7 linked regions of the Homo sapiens genome follow. The protein of the gene in region 1 interacts with the protein of each later gene in a pairwise test. Each region holds a gene or a part of one and is shown in the gene's direction. Other genes may lie near its edges.

The links.
Region 2: the proteins of ZNF250 (region 1) and RUBCN interact in binary tests that used the Homo sapiens proteins (3 or more experiments, as listed by UniProt).
Region 3: the proteins of ZNF250 (region 1) and CDR2L interact in binary tests that used the Homo sapiens proteins (3 or more experiments, as listed by UniProt).
Region 4: the proteins of ZNF250 (region 1) and GRAP2 interact in binary tests that used the Homo sapiens proteins (3 or more experiments, as listed by UniProt).
Region 5: the proteins of ZNF250 (region 1) and GUCD1 interact in binary tests that used the Homo sapiens proteins (3 or more experiments, as listed by UniProt).
Region 6: the proteins of ZNF250 (region 1) and TOP3B interact in binary tests that used the Homo sapiens proteins (3 or more experiments, as listed by UniProt).
Region 7: the proteins of ZNF250 (region 1) and YJU2B interact in binary tests that used the Homo sapiens proteins (3 or more experiments, as listed by UniProt).

Annotation. Positions count from the first base shown.
Region 1 is NC_000008.11:144,884,454-144,887,953, reverse strand, and holds part of ZNF250 (zinc finger protein 250), read left to right. Parts: intron 1-1,051; coding exon 1,052-1,114; intron 1,115-3,500. UniProt on the Homo sapiens protein: May be involved in transcriptional regulation.
Region 2 is NC_000003.12:197,726,905-197,730,404, reverse strand, and holds part of RUBCN (run domain Beclin-1-interacting and cysteine-rich domain-containing protein), read left to right. Parts: intron 1-3,500.
Region 3 is NC_000017.11:74,990,632-74,994,131, forward strand, and holds part of CDR2L (cerebellar degeneration-related protein 2-like), read left to right. Parts: intron 1-3,500.
Region 4 is NC_000022.11:39,956,584-39,960,083, forward strand, and holds part of GRAP2 (GRB2-related adapter protein 2), read left to right. Parts: intron 1-3,471; coding exon 3,472-3,500. UniProt on the Homo sapiens protein: Interacts with SLP-76 to regulate NF-AT activation. Binds to tyrosine-phosphorylated shc.
Region 5 is NC_000022.11:24,542,539-24,545,138, reverse strand, and holds part of GUCD1 (protein GUCD1), read left to right. Parts: intron 1-1,055; coding exon 1,056-1,297; intron 1,298-2,038; coding exon of another isoform or gene 2,039-2,041; coding exon 2,042-2,133; 3' UTR 2,134-2,600.
Region 6 is NC_000022.11:21,962,288-21,965,787, reverse strand, and holds part of TOP3B (DNA topoisomerase 3-beta-1), read left to right. Parts: intron 1-412; coding exon 413-503; intron 504-1,472; coding exon 1,473-1,627; intron 1,628-1,759; coding exon 1,760-1,865; intron 1,866-2,894; coding exon 2,895-3,041; intron 3,042-3,185; coding exon 3,186-3,359; intron 3,360-3,500. UniProt on the Homo sapiens protein: Releases the supercoiling and torsional tension of DNA introduced during the DNA replication and transcription by transiently cleaving and rejoining one strand of the DNA duplex.
Region 7 is NC_000019.10:13,754,395-13,757,894, forward strand, and holds part of YJU2B (probable splicing factor YJU2B), read left to right. Parts: intron 1-1,802; coding exon 1,803-1,885; intron 1,886-3,023; coding exon 3,024-3,079; intron 3,080-3,391; coding exon 3,392-3,452; intron 3,453-3,500. UniProt on the Homo sapiens protein: May be involved in mRNA splicing.

The DNA of each region.
Region 1 (3,500 bases):
CTTGAAAGCTCCTCCTTATTTCTAAAGTAGCTTTATGTGGATAGGGCACCAGGTATTACAGTCTACCTCTTACTGGCCTGCAAAATCAGATATCCTCAGAGGAACAAGGTACATGCCAGCCTTAGAGGAATTTAATTTTCCAGTGACTATACAAGAAGACACATCATCATGTCTTGGAAATCTTGCATAGAACTTCTGCTTACTGACTGCAGCTGTAGGAGACAAGAAAACACAGGAGGGCATTTTGCTGCCACTGCCAAACCAGTCCTGGGCTCCCTTGTGTCCAGCTATGTACTCGCCTGATGGAGAGCTTAAACTGCCTTTGAGCGCCCTTTGATTTGACACCACAGAGACTGTGAAATTCTCTGGGAGCATGGCTGGTTGGAGATGAGAAGTTTTTTCATGGAAGCACCTGGTCCCCTCACCTCTAACACAGGCCACAGAGGACGATGGGACTGAGTTTTAGATTACTGATGTGCATAGAAACAGAAGCCACCTGCCACAACCTGGATCACTGCCACTAGCATCAGAGCAAGCGAGGAGTAGATATGCCTTTGTCTTGTCCTGGCAGTTCCTCAGGATGGATAAGTGTGTGCACCTGCCCAGCCCTGACCCTGCTGTTTGTAACTCAGTAAATTACATGTTGTAATAGCAACGAAAGGATTTTCCACTCTTTTTTTTTTTTTTTTTTTTTTTTTTTTGAGAGACGGAGTTTCACTCTGTCCCCCAGGCTGGAGTGCAGTAGTGTGATCTCGGCTCACTGCAACTTCTTGTCTCCGGGGTTCAAGCGATTCTCCTGCCTCAGCTTCCCTAGTAGTGGGGACTACAGGCATGCACCACCATGTCCAGCTAATTTTTGTATTTTTTAGTAGAGACGGGGTTTCACTATATGTTGGCCAGGCTGGTCTCAAACTTCTGACCTCAAGTGATCCACTCACCTTGGCCTCCCAAAGTGCTGGGATTACAGACGTGAGCCACCATGCCCGGCCAGGATTTTCCACTCTTGAAGGGAGTATTTTGTTGTCACTTCAACTCGCTGTTTTTTTTCCAGACAACCTCAAATATGACCACACTACAGCCTGTACACAACAAGACAGTTTATCTTGTCCATGGGGTAAGTGTATGCCTGATCTTTTTAATTCAGTACAATCTCTGAAGGTGTTAACACTAATGTTTTACAAGAATGTAGAGGCGACTCGGTGCTATGAAGCGTGTTAAACAACTCACACAATTGCTACAAAACACCAGGGAGGGGCTTTTTGTGTTTTTAATTTTTAAAACATTTTTCCTTTTCTTGTGAGCCATAGTAGGCCTAGAGAGATTACTGGGTTTTTATAATTAAACATTTATTTCGGTGAAATCATTTTGTTTCCTTTTATTTGTTCCGTCATGCTTAAAACATACTTCCCTACTTTATACTTAACAACCAAAACCATTATTCTAAAAGCAAGTGACTCTTGGCTGAAGTCCAGCTTCTGCACAGTATGGATGCAAGGTGCAGGCAAGTTTGGCCTTCACAGCAACTTGATTCTGTCTCACAAGCAGTCATATGATGCTTTCGTGCCATGGATGATTGAGCGAGTAGTCTCTTATGCAGTTAGTTTAGTGTGTGTGTGTGTTTTCTTTTTTTCAGGCTGGAGTGCAGTGTAGAGACAGAGTCTTGCTGTGTTGCCCAAGCTGGTCTCAAACTCCTGGGCTCAAGCAATCCTCCTGCCTCAGCCTCCCAACATGCTGGGATTACCGGCATGAGCCACTGTGCCTGGCCTGTGTTTTTATTATTAAAGACATCTTGTCTATCTTGTTACCCTGGCATCAGGTCAGAAGCCGCCCATTCAGGAAACTTTTTTTTTTTTTTTTTAGACAGGCTCTCACTCTGTTGCCCAGGCTGGAGTGCAGTGGCATAATCACGGCTCACCAGTCTCAACCTCCTGGACTCAAGCAATCCTCCCACAACAGCTTCCCGAGAGTAGCTATAACCACAGGTGTACACCACCATGCCCAGCTAATTTTTGTAGAGACGGGGTTTCACCATGTTGCGCAAGCTGGTCTCAAACTCCTGGCCTCAAGTGATCCTCCCACCTTGCCCTCCCGAAGTGCTGGGATTACAGACATGAGCCACCACACCGGGTGAAACTTCAGACAATAGAAGTAATACTTTTCAGTGTAAATGAGTAACTATTTCTTTAGCCTATAGGCTTTTATTCCATGAAGATGAGGCTTATACATTAAAAAAAGAAAGAACTAAAACTTCTATCAGTTTAAAAAACACATAGCCAGCTTAGGCAAGATACTGAGACCCCACACTACAAAATAAAATTAAAAATTAGCCAGACATGATGGTGCATTCCTGTAATCCCAGCCACATGGAGGCTGAGACAGGAGGATTCCTTGAGCCCAGGAGGTTGAGGTTGCAGTAAGCCATGATCACACCACTGCACTCCAGCCTGGGTGATAGAGTGAGACCCTGTCTCAAAAAAAAACCCACATAGAGTGACTTTCTAAAATGAGATATGTTAAAAATTGTATTAAACTGGGCCGGGGGTGGTGGCTCATGCCTGTAATCTCAGCACTTTGGGAGGCCGAGGCAGATGGACCACCTGAGGTCAGGAGTTTGAAACCAAGCTGGCCAACATGGTGAAACCCCATCTCTACTAAAAATACAAAAAATTATCTGGGCATGGTGGCACATGCCTGTAATCCCAGCTACTTGGGAGGCTGAGGCAGGAGAATCGCTTGAACCTGGGAGGCAGAGGTTGCGGTGAGCTGAGATCGTGCCATTGCACTCCAGCCTGGGCAACAAGAACGAAACTCTGTCTCAAAAAAATTGTATTAAACTGAAGACAGTGAATTTAAATTTTTTTATTAAAAAAACTGTTAAATTCTCACTGTTTCAATTTGTCAATACACTTAATAAATTCCTCTGAATAGAATAAAAAGACGCAGAATTACCCAAAAAGAAAAGTAGGCACAAATTTCTGCATAGATTAGGAAAACCAAAGGGCCAATAAATAAGAAAACTGCTCAGCCTCATTATTCATCAGTAAAGTGGAAATCAAAACCACTGTGACATGATGTTACACCTTCAGAATGGAAAAAATGGAAAGATCTGACAATATAACATGTGGGTGAGGATGCAGGGCAGCTAATAGGGATGTAAATTCACATAGCCACTTTGGAAAAGTTTGGCATTATCCAATGAAATTGAAAACATGATCACATTCTGAGAGAATGGAGGTAAAAAAAATGAAAAAAAAAATCGAAAACATGAATTCCTATGTTCACCACTTCCCACTCTTGCATATGTATACAGCAAGGACATTTGTGTGTAAGCACCAGGAAACATAGGAGAATCTTCACAGAAGCATGCTTCATGATTTAAAAAAACATTTGAAAAGAATTCAGGACCGGGCGCCGTGGCTCCTGCCTGTAATCCCAGCACTTTGGGAGGCCGAGGTGGGTAGATCACGAAGTCAGGAGTTTGAGGCCATCCTGGCCAACAT
Region 2 (3,500 bases), on another chromosome or scaffold:
AAGATGCAGTCCCAGCAGCTCCAGCAAAAGCAAAAATCCCGGGGCTGACTCTTTTTGGACTGACTTGAGTTATGTTTCTGTTCTTGTGGTCGGGGTATGGGCTATTCTGCTTAGTCAGGCCTAAGTTATGTGCCCAACCCTGGATCCTAAGGGAGGGTGAGATCTTGGAACCTCATGGACCAGAGTAAGTAGTAGAGAGGTGGTTCCTCAGTGGAAAATCAGGGTTCTCTTACCAAAATAAAGGGACAAATTCTGGGCAGATATAAAGTTTATTCACTGTAGACCCATATAATCTCTTCTTGGGGATTACCTCAGTAGCTTCTTAACTAATCTTCCAACCTGAATTTAGTCCCAATTCCAGATAGCCTCACCCTGCTACTAGTTTAATTTTTCAGAAACAAAGCTACTATAATATTTTACTCAGGGATGTTCAGTGATTGGCTGGATTTGGTGGCTCATGCCTGTCATCCCAGCTCACCCTGCTACTAGTTTAATTTTTCAGAAACAAAGCTACTATAATATTTTACTCAGGGATGTTCAGTGATTGGCTGGATTTGGTGGCTCATGCCTGTCATCCCAGCACTTTGGGAGGCTGAGGTGGGTGGGTCACCTGAGGTCAGGAGCTCAAGACCAGCCTGGTCAACATGGCAAAATGCTGTCTCTACTAAAAATACAAAAAATTAGCCAGATGTGGTTGTGCACCCCTGTAATCCCAGCTACTCAGGAGGCTAGGCAGGAGAATTGCTTGAACCTGGTAGGCGGAGGTTGCAGTGAGCCCAGGTGATGCCACTGCACTCCACCCTGGGCAACAGATCGAGACTGTCTCAAAAAACAGAACAAAACAAAAGCAGGGGCCGGACGCGGTGGCTCACGCCTGTAATCCCAGCACTTTGGGAGGCCGAGGCAGGCGGATCACAAGGTCAGGAGATCGAGACCATCCTGGCCAACATGGTGAAACCCCGTCTCTACTAAAAATACAAAAAAATTAGCCGGGCGTGGTGGCGGGCGCCTGTAGTCCCAGCTACTTGGGAGGCTGAGGCAGGAGAATGGCGTGAGCCCGGGAGGCAGAACTTGTAGTGAGCCGAGATCGCGCCGCTGCACTCCAGGCTGGGCGACAGAGCGAGACTCCGTCTCAAAAACAACAAACAAAACAAAACAAAAAAAACAAAAGCAATGTTCAGTGGTTTTCCCATTGAAAACAGAATATTTTCCATGTCAAAACTCCTCACCCTGGTATTGAATCTTTTTTTTTTTTTTTTGAGACGGAGTCTCGCTCTGTTGCCCAGGCCAGAAAGCAGTAGCACAATCTCGGCTCACTGCAAGCTCCGCCTCCCGGGTTCACGCCATTCTCCTGACCTCGTGATCCGCCCGCCTCGGCCTCCCAAAGTGCTGGGATTACAGGCGTGAGCCACCGCGCCCGGCCTGAATCTTTCTGTTAGTACTTAATGAAGTTTCCAATTACAAAACCATGGCACACTCACCCACTCTCACATCTTTCTTGCCATTCTCATTCTTGCTTTTCTACACTCACTGCAATACCTCCCTCTTTGCCTGGAGAGCTCTTAGTCGTCCCTTAAATGACGCTCCTTTAGAAGGCACCCCTCTCTGTTAGAGCACATCTGACATCTCCCTTCATAGCATGGTTATGTAAGTGTCCATTTCCCCCATTACGTTCTGAATTCTCTGACAGATGGGACTCTTCCTCTTTAACCGCTATAACGCTTCTTTAAGCACCAGTGCCTAGCCCAGTGCCTGACATATAGTTGGTGTTCAGTGAATATTTGTTTGAGGAATGAAGACATTAACGTTGTGGTCATCCCTCTTACAGATGGGCAGATGCTAGTGGAACTGTTGTCATTGGAAGTGCCACTTTCTTCGCATTTCTCCTATTCATTTTCACTTTTTCACGTTTTTATATTTCCTGTTTTCTTTCTTTCCCGTCCCTGTTTGATTATTCTAGGAGTTAACAGTTTACATAGAGCTAGTAGCAAAGCAGGATGATCACATGATTTTAAAGGAAACTAGCAATTGCTAGTTCGATTTTTAGTACAAAAATTACAGAAACATACCCTTGAAGCTTTTGGGGAAGCTGCTGTTGTCAGAACCCAGGAGGGGACTGCAAGGACTCTAAGCCTGAAGCTTTTCCTCTCCCCACAGCTGTTTTTGTTTTTTGAAGGGTTCTCACATTGTTGCCCAGGCTAGACTTGAACTTTTGAAGTCAGGCAATCCTCCTGCCTCAGCCTCCTGAGGAGCTGGGACTACAGGCATGTGCCACTGTGCCCAGCATAGGTCAGGCAGTCCTCCTGCTTCAGCCTCCTGAGGAGCTGGGACTACAGGCATGTGCCACTGTGCCCAGCATAGGTCAGGCAGTCCTCCTGCTTCAGCCTCCTGAGGAGCTGGGACTACAGGCATGTACCGCTGTGCCCAGCGTGCCTTTTACCTTTAAATCATCTACCTGAAACTGAAAAGACTGAAACACTTTGTCTTTCCTCCCGTGCCATTGCTATTAAAGTGGTGTTGTGTGCCTGCTTTACCTTGTTTGTAAAGCATTCTGCTACCTAGACAGTATAACATGAGCCTGGTGAAGTAATAAGATTGTCTTTCTTATATGTCTCATGAAATCAGCCTTATTGTGCCGCAGTAACACCTTGACAGTTTCTTCCATTCCGTCAAGCAGATTTAAGTCTTTACCATATAAAAGTCATATCCAGTATTTGAGGAAGTCCTTCCTAGCTTTCCTACTTCAGTGAGAGGACCAACAGCATCAACAGGGCCTTGCAATCCATGCTTACCTGCAGACCTGACCTTGGTTTAAACGCAGTGGAGATACTGTTTGGATGTGGAACACTGTAACCAAACTTCATTATGCTGCAGACTGTCCAATCCTTTACAATTTTTGGCAGAATTTTCTTTTTAAGCAGAATGGGTAAGAAGGCTTTATTCTAGGTACCCTTCCTGATTTTGTTGGATTTATTAGATTTATGCAATGGAAGTTCACAGGGGGAAAATGGCAGAGAAAAGAGAATATTATTCTCTGCTCTATGATAATGCTTCCCCTAGATTGTCAGTTACACCCTCCTCTGTGAAGCAATTGTTGTCTCCATTTTACAGTGAGGGAATTGAAGCTTCAAGAGTTTAAATGGCTTGGTCAAGAATGTGGATCTAGGCCAGGTGAGGTGGCTCACGCCTGTAATCCCAGCACTTTGGGAGGCTGAGGCAGGCAGATCACTTGAAGTCAAGAGTTCGAGACCAGCCTGGCCAACATGGTGAAACCCCATTTCTACTAAAAATACAAAAATTAGCTGGGCATGGTGTCAGGCACCTGTAATCTCAGCTACTTGGGAGGCTGAGGCAGGAGAATCATTTGAACCCGGGAGGCGGAGGTTGCAGTGAGCTGAGATCGCACCACTGCCCTCCAGCCTGGGCGACAGAGCAAAACTCAGTCTCAAAAAAAAAAAAAAAAATAGAATGTGCATCTAGTTTGTGAGCAGCTAAGATTC
Region 3 (3,500 bases), on another chromosome or scaffold:
CGATGCTTGTACCAAGTCATGGAGCGACATGAGAAGGCTGGAAAATAGGGAGGGAGGGGCTGAAGGAAGCATCAGACACGGGTTCTGTGGGGCATTCCCGTGGGCCCTGCCCGCCCTGTGCCCCAGGGGCCAGGCATGGAGAGCTGGATGGTGGGACGGAGCACGGGCCAAAGGCCAGCCATATTGGGTGTCAAAGGCCTGTTGCATCTCCCAACCCACAAATTCTCTTCCACCCAGCTGCTCCCTGGTTGCCTGTGAGTGGCCCAGAAATGGTTTTCTCAGCCAGCCACCTGGTCTTCCCTCCTGTCTGTTTCCTCCTGCCCAAAGGGCAGGCCCTGATTCCACTTTCCAGAAGCTTGACTGTAGAGATCCTGTTTGGCTTTGATGCTCTGTCCTGGTGGAAAGCAGCCGTGGGACAAGTGAGGTCCTAGATTCTCGCTGTGTTCCCTCTGCCCACTGCCACGAGCATTTATAAAAATAGAAAAAGCCAGCTGGGCACAGCAGCTCACACCTGTAATCCCAGCACTTTGGGAGGCCAAGGCGGGCGGATCACCTGAGGTCGGGAGTTCGAGACTAGCCTGACCAACATGGAGAAACCCCGTCTCTACTAAAAATACAAAATTAGCCAGGCGTGGTGGCACATGCCTGTAATCCCAGCTACTCAGGAGGCTGAGCCAGGAGAATCTCTTGAACCCAGGAGGCAGAGGTTGCAGTGAGCTGAGATAGCTAGCGCCATTGCACTCCAGCCTGGGCAACAAGAGCAAACTCTGTCTTTAAAAAAAAAAAAAAAAAAAGCCTAGAAAGAGCCGGGCACGGTGGCTCACGCCTGTAATCCCAGCACTTTGGGAGGCCGAGGCGGATGGATCACAACATCAGGAGATCGAAACCATCCTGGCTAACACAGTGAAACCCCGTCTCTACTAAAAATACAAAAAATTAGCCGGGCGCGGTGGCGGGCGCCTGTAGTCCCAGCTACTCGGGAGGCTGATGCAGGAGAATGGTGTGAACCCGGGAGGCAGAGCTTGCAGTGAGCCAAGATCGCGCCACTGCACTCCAGCCTGGGCGACAGAGTGAGACTCTGTCTCAAAAAAAGAAAAAAAGAAAGAAAAAGCCATTAATTATTAAGCACTGGCACTCCCTCTTTCGGCCCACATTCCTCCCCTACCTTGGACCAGGCGTGGCAGGCCCTGTGCGTTCCTCTTTCCAGGCTGAGAGGCAGCTGCTGAGTCACAGATTTGAAGTCCTTGGTACCCGTGCTGTCCCCGCCTGCCTAGCTGACCTTGAGTCCTCAGCCTCAGGAGAGCTCTGACCTGGCAACGGGAGGGAGGTCCTGCCTCCACCCTGGTTACCCCAAAGGTGACCTGACCCTGATTCTGTGGACCCAGAGTGGCTGACAGTCGTGCCCTGGAGCTGAGAACAGGACCTCACAGCCCTGCCAGGTGGTACTTGTGTCCACAGCCTGGAGCCCACACCCCTACCTTTGTCCTCCCTGAAAATGTCCCCTCTCCCTTTGCTGAGTCTCTGCTCTGGAATCTGTGGTGCCCGAGCCAGTGAGGGACAGTGGGATTTCTAAGTTTCTTTTCAAAGACAGGCCCTGGGTTCCCCAGACATTCCTCCTCAGGCCTCTGGGGCATTGCTTCATGTAAAACCACTAAAACCTCCTGAAGGAGACCCCAGAAAACCCTGGGGTCCAGGCAGGGGAGGTGCCAACCCAGACTTAATGTTGTTTTTTTTTTTTCTTTTGACCTGCACAGTTCAAACCCATAGCCCAGACTTAGTACCTTCCCTCAGCTTGGTCCGGTGTGTCCCATTCATCCAGCTGTGACAGGTTGTTACTCCACTTTCACTTCCTGTCTAGCCAGCTCCCCCATTCTCCCGTTCCCAGGCCTCTCTCCTCTGAGCCTGGAGCCATCACCCACCCTCTGGTAGCTGGTGTCTTCTCCCTAGTACTTGGCTCCACTCAGTTCCCTGCTCTGCAACTTCTAGACTATTCCCTGATCCCTCCTGGCAGCTTTGACCAGCTTAGCTTGCGCTGTGATCCAGTTTCCCTAAAATGATCTGAGACCTGCCTCTCTGCCCCCAAACAGCTTCTATTGTGTTTCTCTTTCTACCTGTCCCTGAATCACTAGGTGGCCCAAGTCGATTCACTGCCTTCAAAGGGCAACCTTTGATGTCTCTGGTTTATAGGGTGGTATACCACCCTGGCCTGCCAGCATTAGAAATCTACACACAGCCCAGACACTAACCTGGAAGTGGGGGGTATGATGTTGCACTGCACTTGGCCTTTCTTCACTCACCTCTGATGCAGTGGCTTTGCACTCTAGTTAAGCTGCAGGGGCTCCATGAAGGCCACTTACTTGGAGCATGTCCTCCGACACCCACGGCAGGAGGTAGAATCAGTAGCAATGGCCTCTTTGCAGACCATGTAACAGTTTCCAAGGGGGAAAACATTTAGGAGAGTAGCCCTCTGATCTCTTTCATGTATATCTGAACTGCTGGATACTGTTCAGGATGAGCTAAATTTGAGTCCCACTATGGAAAACAGGAAGATAGCATGGCTGTCTCATCACAAACTGAAGGTGATCTTGCCCGGCTCCTGAGTCCTGAGTTACTGCCATGCGCACAATATAGTACAGGGCTGTAGTTCAATCTTTTTTTTTTTTCAAGACAGAGTCTTGGTCCATCGCCCAGGCTGGAGTTCAGTGGCACAATCTTGGCTCACTGCAACCTCCGCCTCCCAGGTTCAGGCAATTCTCCTGCCTCAGCCTTCTGAGTAGCTGAGATTACAGGTAAGCACCAGCACGCCCAGCTAATTAATTTTTTTGTAGAGACAGGGGTCTCACTATGTTGCCCAGTGCAATGATCTTTACATCAAACTTTACAATTTGTAGATACCTCCAGACTTTTGCCCAACTGACAGGTCATAAATTCATACAGCATATATCCGCATTCCCTTACTAGGTTTATGTTATGTAACTAGTTTTTTCTTGGCATCCTCATCAGAAGGTTAATTGCTCAAGGCTAAAAGTTCTTACCTATGATTTACATGATTTGGTTTCTTTGTTGTTGTTGTTGTTTTCAATGGCTGAGGAAGATGTTTGGGAAAGCTGCCTTTGTTTTTTCAGGCTAAGTTACTGCAGCCTTGCTCTAGGATAGCAGCTTTGCACTCCTTCTCCAGATGACACAGGGCCCTCCTTTGGCTAAAACCCAGCCCTGGAGGCTCCACTTTGGCTGTTTCAAAACCTCACCTCTGTGCACAGGATCAGACTCCGGATTTGTTCCTGTGGGGCAGTTCAGCCTTTATGTCCAGGCCCAGTGGCTGGTCTGGCCCCTCTGCCTCTCACAAGGCAATGTCAGTTCTGCCCCCAGCTTGGCTGAAGGCCCAAGGCTCTGCCCTCAGCTGCCCACCAAGAGTCACTGCTTGCCTGGGCTCATCCCAAAGGAAAACTTCCACCCCAGGTCTAGGTTTCTTTTCAAAGACATCCCTTGGGCTCCCCAGC
Region 4 (3,500 bases), on another chromosome or scaffold:
TCAGCCTCCCTAGTAGCTGGGATTACAGGTGCATGCCACCACACCCAGCTAACTTTTGTATTTTTAGTAGAGATGGGGTTTCACCATGATGGACAGGCTGGTCTCAAACTCTTGACCTCAGGTGATCCACCCGCCTCGGCCTCCCAAAGTGCTGGGATTACAGGTGTGAGCCACTGCACCCGGCCTATTTTAAGTTTTTATAAAATGAGTTTGTAAACTCAAATTATCTATAGTGATTTCAATCACGGCGTTCCCCAGAATTCCAAAGGGGACGCTATTGGCCACCCCACTTCGGGAGCTGCTCTCCTAAGCGCTTCTCTGTGACCTCCTAATCCTAACCATCCTCACCAGGCTCTCACCCTTCACTCAGTGGGTGGACAGACACTCCCTGCCTTCAGTAAAGCATGCTCACCCCAATGAGAGAAGTCAGCGGGGGGAAGGGGAAATTCTCTTCCTAAAGAGGAAATGAAAAATTGAGATTGGGCTTCGTTTGTCTCAAGAATTGACCACAAGGGTTAGATAGAAATCTAATCTTGCCTCAGAACCAGGGTCTAGCTCAAAGAGCAAAAGCTTGTTAGAAAACCACAGTAGTATTGGTGACTCCAGCAAGGTGCAAGAGCACCAGTCTTGGTAAACCTGAACTGACCACCAAACCAAGAGAATGACCACTGACCTTGACGGAACCCTTGATGCTGCCCAGGAATCTGCTAGGTGACCTCTGCATACCCCACGTGCTCCTCAAACCTTCAGCCCCTCCGTGCATCACTCTTAGCCCGTGACCTTGATTCCAGGTTCTCTGGAACAATGAAAGCCACCAGAAGTGAAGCTCCCAGACCCCCCTCCCCCACCGCATCCACCTGCCTCCTGCAAGTGTGCTCAAACAGTCGGCCTTTCCTGCAGCTGGCTGGAAGGAACTGTCACTGCTTCTAGCAGAAATTCTCCTCTCTCTCTCTTCCACGTCAACCTCCTTTCCCTCTCTGCTGGATCATTCCTGTCAGCAAACACACACGCTGCAATTTCTCCCAACTTACCAAAACACAAACAAACAAAACCAAACCCAGAGGCCAGGTGGGTTTTGTTGTGGCTGATGCCTGTAATCCCAGTCCTTTGAGAGGCTGAGGGAGGAGGATCACTTGTGGCTAGGAGTTTGAGACCAGCCTGGGCAACATAGCGAGCCCCATCTCTACAAAAAATTTTTAAAAATTAGCTGGTCGTGGTGGCATGCGCCTATAGTCCCAGCTGCTTGGGAGGCTGAGGCAGGAGGATCGCTTGAGCCTGGGAGTTCAAGGCTGTGGTGGACCATGATTATATCACTGCACTCCAGCCTGGGCAGCAGAGAGAGACTCTGTTTCAAAGAAAAAAAAAATTTAAATAAATAAATAAATCAAGAAAATTCTTAATCCCAAATCCCCTTCCACTTGCCACTCCATCTCTTCAAAAGGAGTGTGTGCATTTGCTACTTCCAACTCCTCATCTCCCGACCCTTCCCACCAGGCTCCCCATGGGCTGTAGCTCCCAGGGGTCATCTCAGCATGACCTGCCCTGGGGATCCCCCCTCCCACTGGAACACCTCTTTCATTTTGGCTCCAGGACGTCCTTCCTCCGGTTGTCCTCCCACTGCCCTGGCTTCTCCTCCTCAGTCTCTTGTGTTGGTTCCTCCCACTCCCCAGTCCCCTATAGGTTTAGAATGTCTCCTTTTCAGTGAGGTCTTTCTCATCACCATACCTTACATTAATCTCCCACCCACAGCGCCCCATCTCTCCTCTCAGTTTTCATGTTCTCCACAGCACTTACCATCATCTGGCACGCTTCAGATCTTAATTATTTTGTTCTTTTGTGTGTGTCCCCCTCGACTAGAATGTAAGCTCCCTGAGGGCAGGGGTGTGTGTCTGTTCTGCCCACTACTGTGTCCCCAGTGCCCAGGAGGGGCCCAGCACAGTACTAGATGTTCAGTAAAGCTGTTGAATGAATGAATGAATGAATGAACGAACGAATATGTATTATTGAAACCATGACCACTCATGTCTAATATGCAATGTGTGGTGATTTTTACAAATCTTTAAAGAAGCCCCCTATCAGATTGCAGTCAGAGGACAAATGTGTATTTCCTAAATCCCCTTCACTTCTGAAATGTTTCCTTTGCGATATGGCTGCTGTGGTGCATACTCCATTCCTCTTCCCATCCCCATTACATTTCCCACACGTGGCAGTGGTGTGTGTGGTGGCCTCTTGTTTAGCCCTGTAGAATTGTGTGGCAAATACTCAGGCAGAATCTCCAGGCCACCAGAAACTGCTGCTTTCAGCCCTCTCAGAGCACAGCCAAACTTCCCCCTCAGTCCCAGTGGGGGACTCAGTCTCCAGTAAGTACATCCTTCCTGCTACCTATGTCTCAGTTTCCCAAATTCTAGAAAGCACAGAGAATTGCTCACAAAGGAATCCAAAGCCAAGGCCTGACGGGCTTTTATCTTAAAGGAACATGCGTATGAGCCTTCTGGTGACAGCAATTAGAGCAGCCACCTTGAAGCAATGTGACACAGTCCCACCTTTGGCCGCTGAGTGATTGCAGACACTCATTTTGCTTGTCTGTGGTGGAGAGAGGTCTCTGGCCTCCTGCTTTGAGGCTGCAGCCACAGCTTGCCTGGCCCTGTGTAAGTGTTTGACCTATTTCATACATGCCACGCTGTATGCAGCTGTACCTCCAGGGGCTGCCACCCTGACCATTCTGCTAAAAGAGTAATTTCTCCTGTTTCTTCTTTTCCACAGTAAAGATTATTTCCCAGCCTGGATTTTTGGGGCAGGCCCAGGATCTGGTTGTATAGACGCCGCTCTCTGGCGGCTGCCAGCCTCGCTGATTTCCAAGCATGTACACTGGACTCCCTAGGAACACTGCAGCCTCTGCTAGGCACACTGAGCAAAGCCCCCTTGTGCTCCATGCCAGCCTAGGTAACGTGACGCCCTGGGCTGTAACTTTCCTTTAATACCCAGGGAGGAACCTCTAGGCCACTGAGACCTCAGGGCAGGCATGAGCACCCCAGGCCCTGCTCAGCCGGCTGCACCTGGTTGGCTCCAGTGCCTGAAGCCTTCCCTTCCCTCCCCAGTGCATCCTCTGTCCTCGCAGCTCTGGTCTATCTCTTCCGCAGCTGCCGGCAGGCGGCTGCTTCCTGCAGTGAGTCACTCCCACACTGCCCCATTTTGGTGCAGCGACACATTTCCATGATTCGTTTCCCAGGCTGGAGAGAGACTTCTCCTGGAGAGAAGGAACAAAGAGGGTGAATCAAGGGGAATGCTCCCTCGCCTTTCCTGAAAGCTGCCTGGAGCACTGGTTTGATTTCAAACAGCACCTGGTCTCTCTCTGCTCCCTACTGTACAGAGTCCCCAGCCTCTTTCCCTCTGGGTCACCTCTTCTCCACGTCTCCCTCTTGTCACTCCTGTGTCTCATCCTGATCCTTTTGTTTGATCTCGCCCCCACAGATGGTTTCACGAAGGCCTCTCTCGACACC
Region 5 (2,600 bases), on another chromosome or scaffold:
AGCAGCCCCTCCAGCAAAGATGCAGGAGCCCCTGGCCTAGAGCTCCCCCTGCCCACAGCCCCATCTGCCCTCTGTCCCTCTGGGTGTTTTCTTTTCTTTTCTTTTTTTTTTTTTTAAGAGACAGGGTCTTAATCTGTCATACAGGCTGTAGTGCTGTGGCGCAATATTGCAATACAGCTCACTGCTACAGCCCCAGGCTTAAGTGATCTTCTTGCCTCAGTCTCCCGAGTAGCTGGAACCACAATCTCATACCACCACGCCCCACGCCTGGTAAATTTTTAAATGTTTTTGTAAAGACAGGGTACTGCTGTGTTGCCCAGGCTGGTCTCTAATTCCTAGTCTCAAGCGATCCTTCCGCTTTGGCCTCCCAAAGCACTGGGATTACAGGTGTGAGCCACTGTGCCCAGCCCTGCTCTAGGTTTTCATTTGGATTTGCTGCCTAGTGGAAGGCACAGGATGGGGCAGTGCCTTCTGCCAGTGAGGGAGGCTCCAGGTAGATGTCATTGCTGAACTGGAGCTCCCCTGGAAGCAATGTGGCCCAGCCCTTCCTGGGCAGCCCCTTCTGCCACCAGGAGCCTTAGAAAAAAAGTAAAATAGCTCTTTCAGAGAAGCATTTGGTTTTGAAAGTGTCTGAGCCATGCTTGGCTGGCAGTTTTCAATGTAAACCACACATGATTTAGGGTAGAGGAGAGACAGGGCTGGGCAAAAAGAATTCACTAACCAGGCTGGGGTGCAGTAGGAGGATGGTTTCTGTGTGCTGCTCTAGTGGCCCTTGACTGGACCCACCTGGAGCTGAATGCTCTCCCCGTGAAGGGCCTGACAGAGCCAGCTCATCTTTGTGCACATTCAGACACACACACACACCCCCCCCACCGGTCTCCTGCTTGGCTCTAGGCTGAGCCTGGGCCACAGTGACAGAGCAGGGAGTTCAGGGCAAAGGGAAAAGGAGCCGATCCCCAAGCTTTGTAACAGAGAAACAGGCACAAGCAGGGATCCATTTGAGGGATGGGGAATGGGGGCCCAGCAGCACCAGCTGACCCCCCTCCCGCCCACAGCACAGTGAGTGTGAAGGACATCCAGGCGCACCTGGCTCAGGGCCATGTGGCCATCGTGCTGGTGAACTCGGGGGTGCTGCACTGTGACCTGTGCTCCAGCCCTGTCAAGTACTGCTGCTTCACCCCCAGTGGCCACCACTGCTTCTGCCGCACTCCTGACTACCAGGGCCACTTCATCGTGCTGCGTGGCTACAACCGGGCCACTGGCTGCATCTTCTACAACAACCCAGCCTATGCCGACCGTGAGTGCTGGGTGGGGTGGGTGAGGCAGAGTGGTCCACATTCACTGTTCTGTATGCCCAGTGCCCACAGTTCCCACCCATTCAATCTAGTGTGGCCAGGGCCTCCCTCCCTACCTTTTCCCCAAAGCCCCTGCTCCTCCTGGGCTCTTGTCACTGTGGCCACCCCTCAGGCCATGCAGGCAAACCTGCCGCAAACTGTGCCAGCCTCCTCTACACCCTGGCCACCCCTCCCTCTCACACCACAGGCCCCACGCCACTGCCCAGGTCCCTGCCTTACCCTTTCATGCTGCCCAGGCTGCACCCCTCCCCCAACCACCAGGATGGCCGGCACATTCCTCAGAAAGAAAAGCCCGGCCAGACCCAGCCCCTGCTCTAGACCCATCCTGGCCTGCCTACTGCCCTCCGGGCACAGGGAAGGGCTGCCCTGACTCTCATAGACTGGATTCACATAGACAGCCCCTGGACGCCCTGACCACATAGACTTACCCCGTCTATGTGGCCTGGAGCACGTTTCTGCCCCTCTCTGGGCCTTTCTCCAACTGCTTTACTGGGGAGGAGTCAGAGAAACCTCATGAAGACCAGGATGGGCAAGGAGGGCTTCCTGGGGGTGGAGGACTTGAGTTGAGAGGAATGGCCATGTGGATGGGAAACAGACCTCACTCAGCTCCCCTGGGCACTGTGTCGGTGGTGTAGGTGCTCTCTCACAACCCACTGACCCCGTTCTGCCTTCCCCACCCCCAGCAGGAATGTGCAGCACCAGCATCAGTAACTTTGAGGAGGCCAGAACCAGCTATGGCACAGATGAGGACATCCTCTTTGTCTACTTGGACAGCTGACAGCAGGAGCCTGGTGCGCCTAGGCCCTCGGACCCCATCCCCACCCCAGCCGGGCCCGCTCAGGATGCCCTGGCCCAGGCTTGGGGCTGCTGGGGTTGGAATGTGGAACTGCAGCCTCAGCCCATCTGGCAGAGTCCCAGGAACTCGGAGACTGGCACAGCTGCTTTGTCTGCCAGTGCCGTGTGTTGTCATGTCACTCACCCCAAGCACCTGCTGGCTGCTGGAAGCATACCCCAAGACCCCAAGCCTTGACTCCAGCTGCGCCCACAGGAAGTCCAGTCCCGACAGTGCCCTTGTTGCCTTTGAGCCAGATCCATGGCAATGGTCTCCCCACAGACCGCAGGACTGAGCCTGGAGAGAGAAGTTGCTTGACGGATGCCACTTGTCAGGACAGTATGTGAGTGTCTGGAGACAGCATAGCTGACCCCAATCCCCCAGGGCTGAGGACCCCTCCAGGCCCCTCTCTC
Region 6 (3,500 bases), on another chromosome or scaffold:
GGTTCAAGCAATTCTGCCTCAGCGTCACGAGTAGCTTGGATTACAGGCACGTTCCACCATGCCCAGCTAATGTTTGTATTTTTAGTAGAGACGGGGTTTCACCATCTTGGTCAAGCTGGTCTCGAACTCCTGACCTCAGGTGATCCACCCGCCTCAGCCTCCCAAAGTACTGGGATTACAGGCGTGAGCCACCACACCCAGCCAAAATTTTTTTTTAAAAAAGAATTTTCATTCTTTTTCCTTTCCTGGTCCTGAATAAATATTCAATCAAGTCTTTAGACTGTTGGGAAGAATGAATTGGAGAAACAGGGAGACCAGATGAATGAAACCAGACCCTTCGTCCACACATCTTGATTCCCTCTATGGTGGTGTCTTCCTCCTTCCCCAAATCATTGACTGTCCTGTCTTCCAGGTGGAGGCCACAAGCAGGAAAGAAAAGGCCAAGCAGAGGCCCCTGGCCCTGAACACTGTGGAGATGCTGCGTGTGGCCAGCTCTTCTCTGGGTATGTAGGGACATTTCTCTCAAGTCACCAGAAGGCTTCCTGAGGCAGGTTCAGCCTGGAGCAGCGAGTGCCCAGGGTTGCAGGATGGTGCCCAAGGCTTCAAGGGGATCTGAGCCTCAGGAGGATTTCACTTATCCTTAGGTTGTAAAGGTGGTAAAGTTGGTCACCACCTGAGGGGACCTCCTGATGTTAGAGTCCCTGAGCAGCTATCCCTGGTGAGGGGAGAGGCCCCAGCCAGATGTCACCTTCAGGGAACCAGTGTGAACGTCGCCCCTCAGCCTCATCTCCTCAGTCTTTTCTCCTTAGTAACGAGGAGGGGGTTGGGCTGGAAAGCTGGTGGTCTCTGGCAGCTGTCAGCCCCTAGGCATTGGTGCCCCCCACCCCCGCAGGGAACTATGGGCAGTGTCCTCTCAGTGGACACTGAGTGGTGGCTCCAGCGTCCTCAGAGGGCAGCAATGCTGGGAGTGGTTGCTAGCTAAGCGCCTGCCTCTGCTGGTCAGGGAGTAGCAGGACGAGCCCCCCTGAGTGGCCCCAAAGTGCTGTGAGGACAGAAACACCCAAGGGCTCAAAATGGGGCTGCGTGCTAACTCTGTCGTCAGCCAACCCCGAGGTATGGTTATGGCTCCATGGACAATGCATGGGGAGTGGTGCTCTGAAGGCCATGTGTCATCCCCATGGCCATGAGCCCCATGAGGATGCACCGTGGGGTAGAGTGAGTGGCGTTTCCCATCAGGCCCATCCTGGGTGTAGGATTCAGCCTTACGGGTGCGGGATTCAGCCTCATACAAGACTGTGTGGCATAGGTGCCCACCCGGCCAGCAGCTTTGCACTCCAGCTGTGCCTGCTCAGAGCCACCGTCACCCTCCAGGAGGGGCCGGCCACAATGGGGGAGCCTGAGTGCATAGGCCAGGGCAGGCAGCTGGCCATCCCCACGTACCTGGCCCTCTGAGAACCTCCTGTCTCTCGCAGGCATGGGGCCGCAGCACGCCATGCAGACGGCTGAGCGGCTCTACACGCAAGGCTACATCAGCTACCCACGGACAGAGACCACCCACTACCCTGAGAACTTTGACCTGAAGGGCTCTCTGCGGCAGCAGGCCAACCACCCCTACTGGGCCGACACGGTGAGTGGAGCCGGGCCGGCCTCAGCATGTGTGTGTGTCACTGAGGCCTTGGGACCAGGTCTGGTACGTCAGCCAAACCCAGGCAGGCAGCCGAGCCCAGCCACAGACTCTGCTCTGTCTTCTCTCCCTCAGGTGAAGCGGTTGTTAGCAGAAGGTATCAACCGCCCGCGGAAAGGCCATGACGCCGGCGACCATCCCCCCATCACCCCCATGAAGTCTGCCACAGAGGCCGAATTAGGTACCGCTCTCATCCCATACCCGGTGTGCTTCCAGGGAGGGAAGGGCGAGCTGCGACAGTGAAGGTTGCAGGCCCTGTTGGCAATGTGGGGGCTCCTTCAGCCTCTGCCTGCCCTGGCTGTGGGGATGGGGGGCCACCTGGAAGATGAGCTCCATTGCTATGGGACCAGGACAGGAGTGAAGAGGTAGCAGCAGGTGCTGTTGCAGGGAGGCAAGGGGGCAGACGCCACAGGGGACATGAATGAAACCAGGGTAGAGAGTGGCGGTGTGGGGGAGGGGGCAGCACACCTCCTACCTCCCAGCTGGCCTAAGGTGGTACCAGTGGTCCGAGTGCCAGGAGAAGGCAAATGAGGAAGGGAGAGCAGTGCAGGTAGAGACAGGAGCCACCTGTGGACAGTCTGAGTTTGAAGCAATGGTGTCATGTCACGAGACAATGGAAAGACAGGCCAATGCCTGAAGAGCAGTCCCGCCAGAAGCAGGGACAGGAGGTTGTGCAGGATGGTGGGAGCCGCAGCCAGAAAGAAACCACTGAGGCATGGAGGCTTGTGTTCCCTTCCTCCGCATTTGCTTTTTTTTTTTCTTTTTTTGAGACAGAGTCTTGTTCTGTCACCCAGGCTGGAGTGCAGTGGCCCGATCTCGGCTCACTGCAACCTCTGCCTCCCAGGTTCAAGCAGTTCACCCTGCCTCAGCCCCCCGAGTAGCTGGGATTACAGGCTCCCACCACCACACCCAGCTAATTTCTTTGTATTTTTAGTAGAGACGGGGTTTCACCATGTTGGCCAGGCTGGTCTCAAACTCCTGACCTCAAGTGATCCATCCACCTTAGCCTCCCAGAGTGCTAGGATTACAGGCATGAGCCACCACGCCCGGCCTTCCTGCACATTTTCTTTCCTCCTTCCCCAGGATTTGCAGTGTGTCCTGCACAGCGGCTCTGTAAGCAGGAGCTTGCTGCTCGAGCGAGAGTACTGGGGGCTCCTCACGGCCAGAGCCCCCAGCTGGCTCCCAACTGACTAGCCCTGGCCTGTTGCAGGGGGTGACGCGTGGCGGCTCTATGAGTACATCACCAGACACTTCATCGCCACGGTCAGCCATGACTGCAAGTACCTGCAGAGCACCATCTCCTTCAGAATTGGGCCCGAGCTCTTCACCTGCTCCGGGAAGACCGTCCTCTCACCAGGTCACACCACGGGCCCAGCCTTCCTCCTCTGTGCCTTCATGGGCAGACAAACATTCTACATCGTGTCTGGGGATGGGAGGCCCAGGGTCTGAGGCCCCGGCCACCCAGGCTGGGGACCCTGAGTGGCGGCGCATATCTCTCCAGGCTTCACGGAGGTCATGCCCTGGCAGAGCGTGCCCCTGGAGGAGAGCCTGCCCACTTGCCAGCGGGGTGATGCCTTCCCTGTGGGCGAGGTGAAGATGCTGGAGAAGCAGACGAACCCACCCGACTACCTGACGGAGGCCGAGCTCATCACGCTCATGGAGAAGCATGGCATCGGTGGGTGCGCCTGCCCAGGCCCCAGAGCCGGCTCCGTCTCCAGTACTCAGGCTTCGAGTCTACTCACAAAGCTGCCCCGCCAGCCCTGTGTGCCCAGCCCAGCACCCCTCCATGGGCTGGTATCTGGAAACTGGTGACCCA
Region 7 (3,500 bases), on another chromosome or scaffold:
CCCTCTTGGGGTTAGAGCCACTGCTGCGGAAGGATGGGTGGCCCCCAAGGTCTTTTTGTCTTCTGCATGTCACCTGAGTCTCGAGGCTGTCTTCACTTTTGGGTGATAACTGTGGCTCTCCTCAGGGACCTGTAACTCCATGTCCACACTATACTAGAGTATAGTGTGTTTACAGCAGGGGCCCAGGATAAGGCAGAGCGCACAGATGAAGGGTCAGATCCCATGGCTTCCCCAGCTCCAGCACCTGTGGCGTCCTGGTTGTCCCCTCTGCCTGGAATCTCTTCCTCCATTTCACCATACTCTCACTTCCTTAAGTGCTTTTCTCACAGAGGTCCTCCCTGACCACTGTCTCGTTCTCTGTTGCATTGCTGAGCACTTTATATAATCTCATAGCCCTTATAACTCCCTCACTTATTCATTTATTTGCGTCTTGTCCATCTCCCCCGCTAGAACATTCTCTCCCTGAAGGCAGAGATGTTCATCTATCTTATTGTGGCTGTGTCCCCACACAGTAGGTGCTCAGTAAGGGCCCAAGTGTCCCAGCTGCCTCGTCCTGAGTATAGGATTTAGCCTCTCTATGCCAAAGTTTCTCCATACGTCAGAAGGGGGAAATAAAATGAGCTGACCTCACAGAATCATTGAGGGATAAATCCTAGCTACTCAGGAGGCTGAGGTGGGAGGATTGCTTGAGCCCAGGAGGTGGAGACTGCAGTGAGTCATAATCATACCACTGCACCCCAGCCTGGGCTACAGAGCCAGACCCTGCCTCAAAAAAAAAAAAAAAAAAAGCCGGCGCCATGGCTCACGCCTCTAATCCCAGCACTTTGGGAGGCCAAGGCAGGTGGATCACCAGGTCGAGAGTTTAAGACCATCCTGGCCAACATGGTGAAACTTGATCTCTACTAAAAATACAAAAATTAGCTGGGCGTAGTGGCCCACACCTGTAGTCCCAGCTACTTGGGAGACTGAGACAGGAGAATCGCTTGAACCCGGAAGGCGGAGGTTGCAGTGAGCCGAGATCACGCCACTGCACTCCAGCCTAGTGACAGAGCGAGACTCTGTCTCAAAAAAAAAAAAAAAAAAATAAGGTGATGCACATGAAGTCCCCAGCGAATGTTTGCCAGTCTTGTCACCTCACCTCATCTTCCCCATAAAACCTGGAAGTAATAATGACCATTATACGTAGTTGACAGACAAGGGAAACAGAGGCTCGGGAAGGCAAAACGTGAGGTCACTCGCCCAGGGTCCCCTGGCTCTTTCAGCTCATAAATGGGAACAGGGCTGGGCGCAGTAGCTCACACCCGGAATCCCAGCACTTTGGGAGGCCGAGGCAAGTGGATCACCTGAGGTCAGGAGTTGGAGACCAGCCTGGGTGACATGGTGAAACCCCGTCTTTACTACAAATACAAAAAAAATAGCCGGGCGTGGTGGCAGGCGCCTGTAATCCCAGCTACTTAGGAGCCTGAGGCAGGAGAATCACTTGAACCCGGGAGGCAGAGGTTGCAGTGAGCCAAGGTCATGCCATTGCACTCCAGCCTGGGCAACAAGAGCAAAACTCCATCTCAAAAAATAAATAAATAAATAAGAGAGGGACTATTCAAACTCACGTTCCTGGTTCCAAGCCTACATGTTCCAGTAAGACCTGGATGCCCCCTATTGCTATGAACACCCGTCCTGCAGGACATAAGAATCAAGGCCTCTCCCACCTGTGAGACACTTGTCCCAAAGCAGTGGGGGTGGCAGAAAATTGTGAGCTCCTCCAGCTCAGCAGCACTAATCCGCTCCTCATCCTCTCCACACAGCATGGCTCTCTCAACCGATACCACAACAGCCACCCGCTTCGGGAGCGGGCTCGGAAGCTGTCACAGGGCATCCTCATCATCCGGTAAGGCCCAGCATCACCTGAGGACCCCACCGTCCTGCCCCATTCCTTCAGTCTCAAGGAGAGTTCAGTGCCCTCATTGGCCCAGTGCTGCAGGGTCTTCATTCCATAAAGCAGAAAGTCACCGTATCAGTCAGTTATTGCCGTGTGACAAAACAATAAGCATTTATTATTGCTCACATGTCTGCAGCTCAGCAAAATATCTCTGCTGGGCTTGGAAGAGCTTGGCTGGGCTGGGCTAGGCTGGCCTGATCTGGGCTGGGCTCCCATGTGTTTCAGAGTTGGCTGGCTGGGGACTGGCTGGTTTAGCAGGGACTTGACCTGTACAGCTGGGCTCTGCTCCGTGTTGTATCTCAACCTGTAGCAGGCCAGCCTGGACTTGATCACATAGGACTCTCAAAAAAGACAGTGATCGTAGTTGGGCACAGTGGGTCACGCCTGTAAACCCAGCACTTTGGGAGGGTGAGGCAGGTGGATCACTTGAGACCAAGAGTTCGAGAGCAGCCTGGCCAACACAGTGAAACCCTGTCTCTACTGAAAATAGAAAAAATTAGGCTGGGTGCGGTGGCTCACACCTGTAATCCCAGCTCCTCGGGAGGCTGAGGCAGGAGAATCACTTGAACTAGGGAGCTGGAGGTTGCAGTGAGCCAAGACCATGCCACTGTACTGCAGCCTGGCAACAGAGCGAGACTCCATCTCAAAAAAAAAAAAAAAATTCGCCGGAATTGGTGGCGCACACCTATAATCCCAGCTACTTGGGAGGCTGAGGCATAAGAATTGCTTGAACCCAGGAGGCAGAGGTTGCAGTGAGCCAGGATCGCACCACTGCACTCTAGCATGGGGAACAGAGCAAGACTCTGTCTCAAAAAAAAAAAGTCGCAGCAGCACCCAAAGGCGGCTGTCCCTGGACCTGGTCAGTCTGCTTTCTAGCAGGCAGGAAGTTCCTGCTCAGTTACAATGGTTGTGATTCTTTTTCTTCCATATATCCATTTCCTGTGTAATGTGAGTGCAGCAACTCCCGTTAACAGGGCAGTCTAATACCCCACCCCTCAAATCACAACCGCGGCCAGAGTCGCAGGTGTGGAGACCCAGGGAGTGTCCAAGTGGACAAGTGCAAGTAAGATGCTGTCTGTCTTTGCAGATTCGAAATGCCATATAACATCTGGTGCGATGGCTGCAAGAACCACATCGGCATGGGTGAGCCTCTGCCCACCCTCCATTCAGTCCTGCAAACATCAGACCCCCTAACTGCTGGATGCCGCCGGGGTGGGGGTGGGAGGGTCCTGATCAGGAATGAGGGAGGAGACGGGCACCCGAGTGACTGGCTGGCCATGGAAGCCCCTTTGCAGAGGGATTAGGAAGCCAGGCTCTGGCTTCCAATCCCGTCTCTAACTCCTCCTAGTTGGGGAACCCTCAGCAAGTGACAGTGAGCCTCTTTGTACCTCATTTTACCCATCTGCAAAATTCAGATGGCAATGAAATTACCACCCCCGCCTGACCCCCTTCCAGGTGTTCGTTACAATGCAGAAAAGAAGAAGGTGGGCAATTACTACACAACCCCGATCTACAGGTAAGGGCGGCTTGGTGGCATCTTGGGAACAGGTGGGGTGGCCACAGG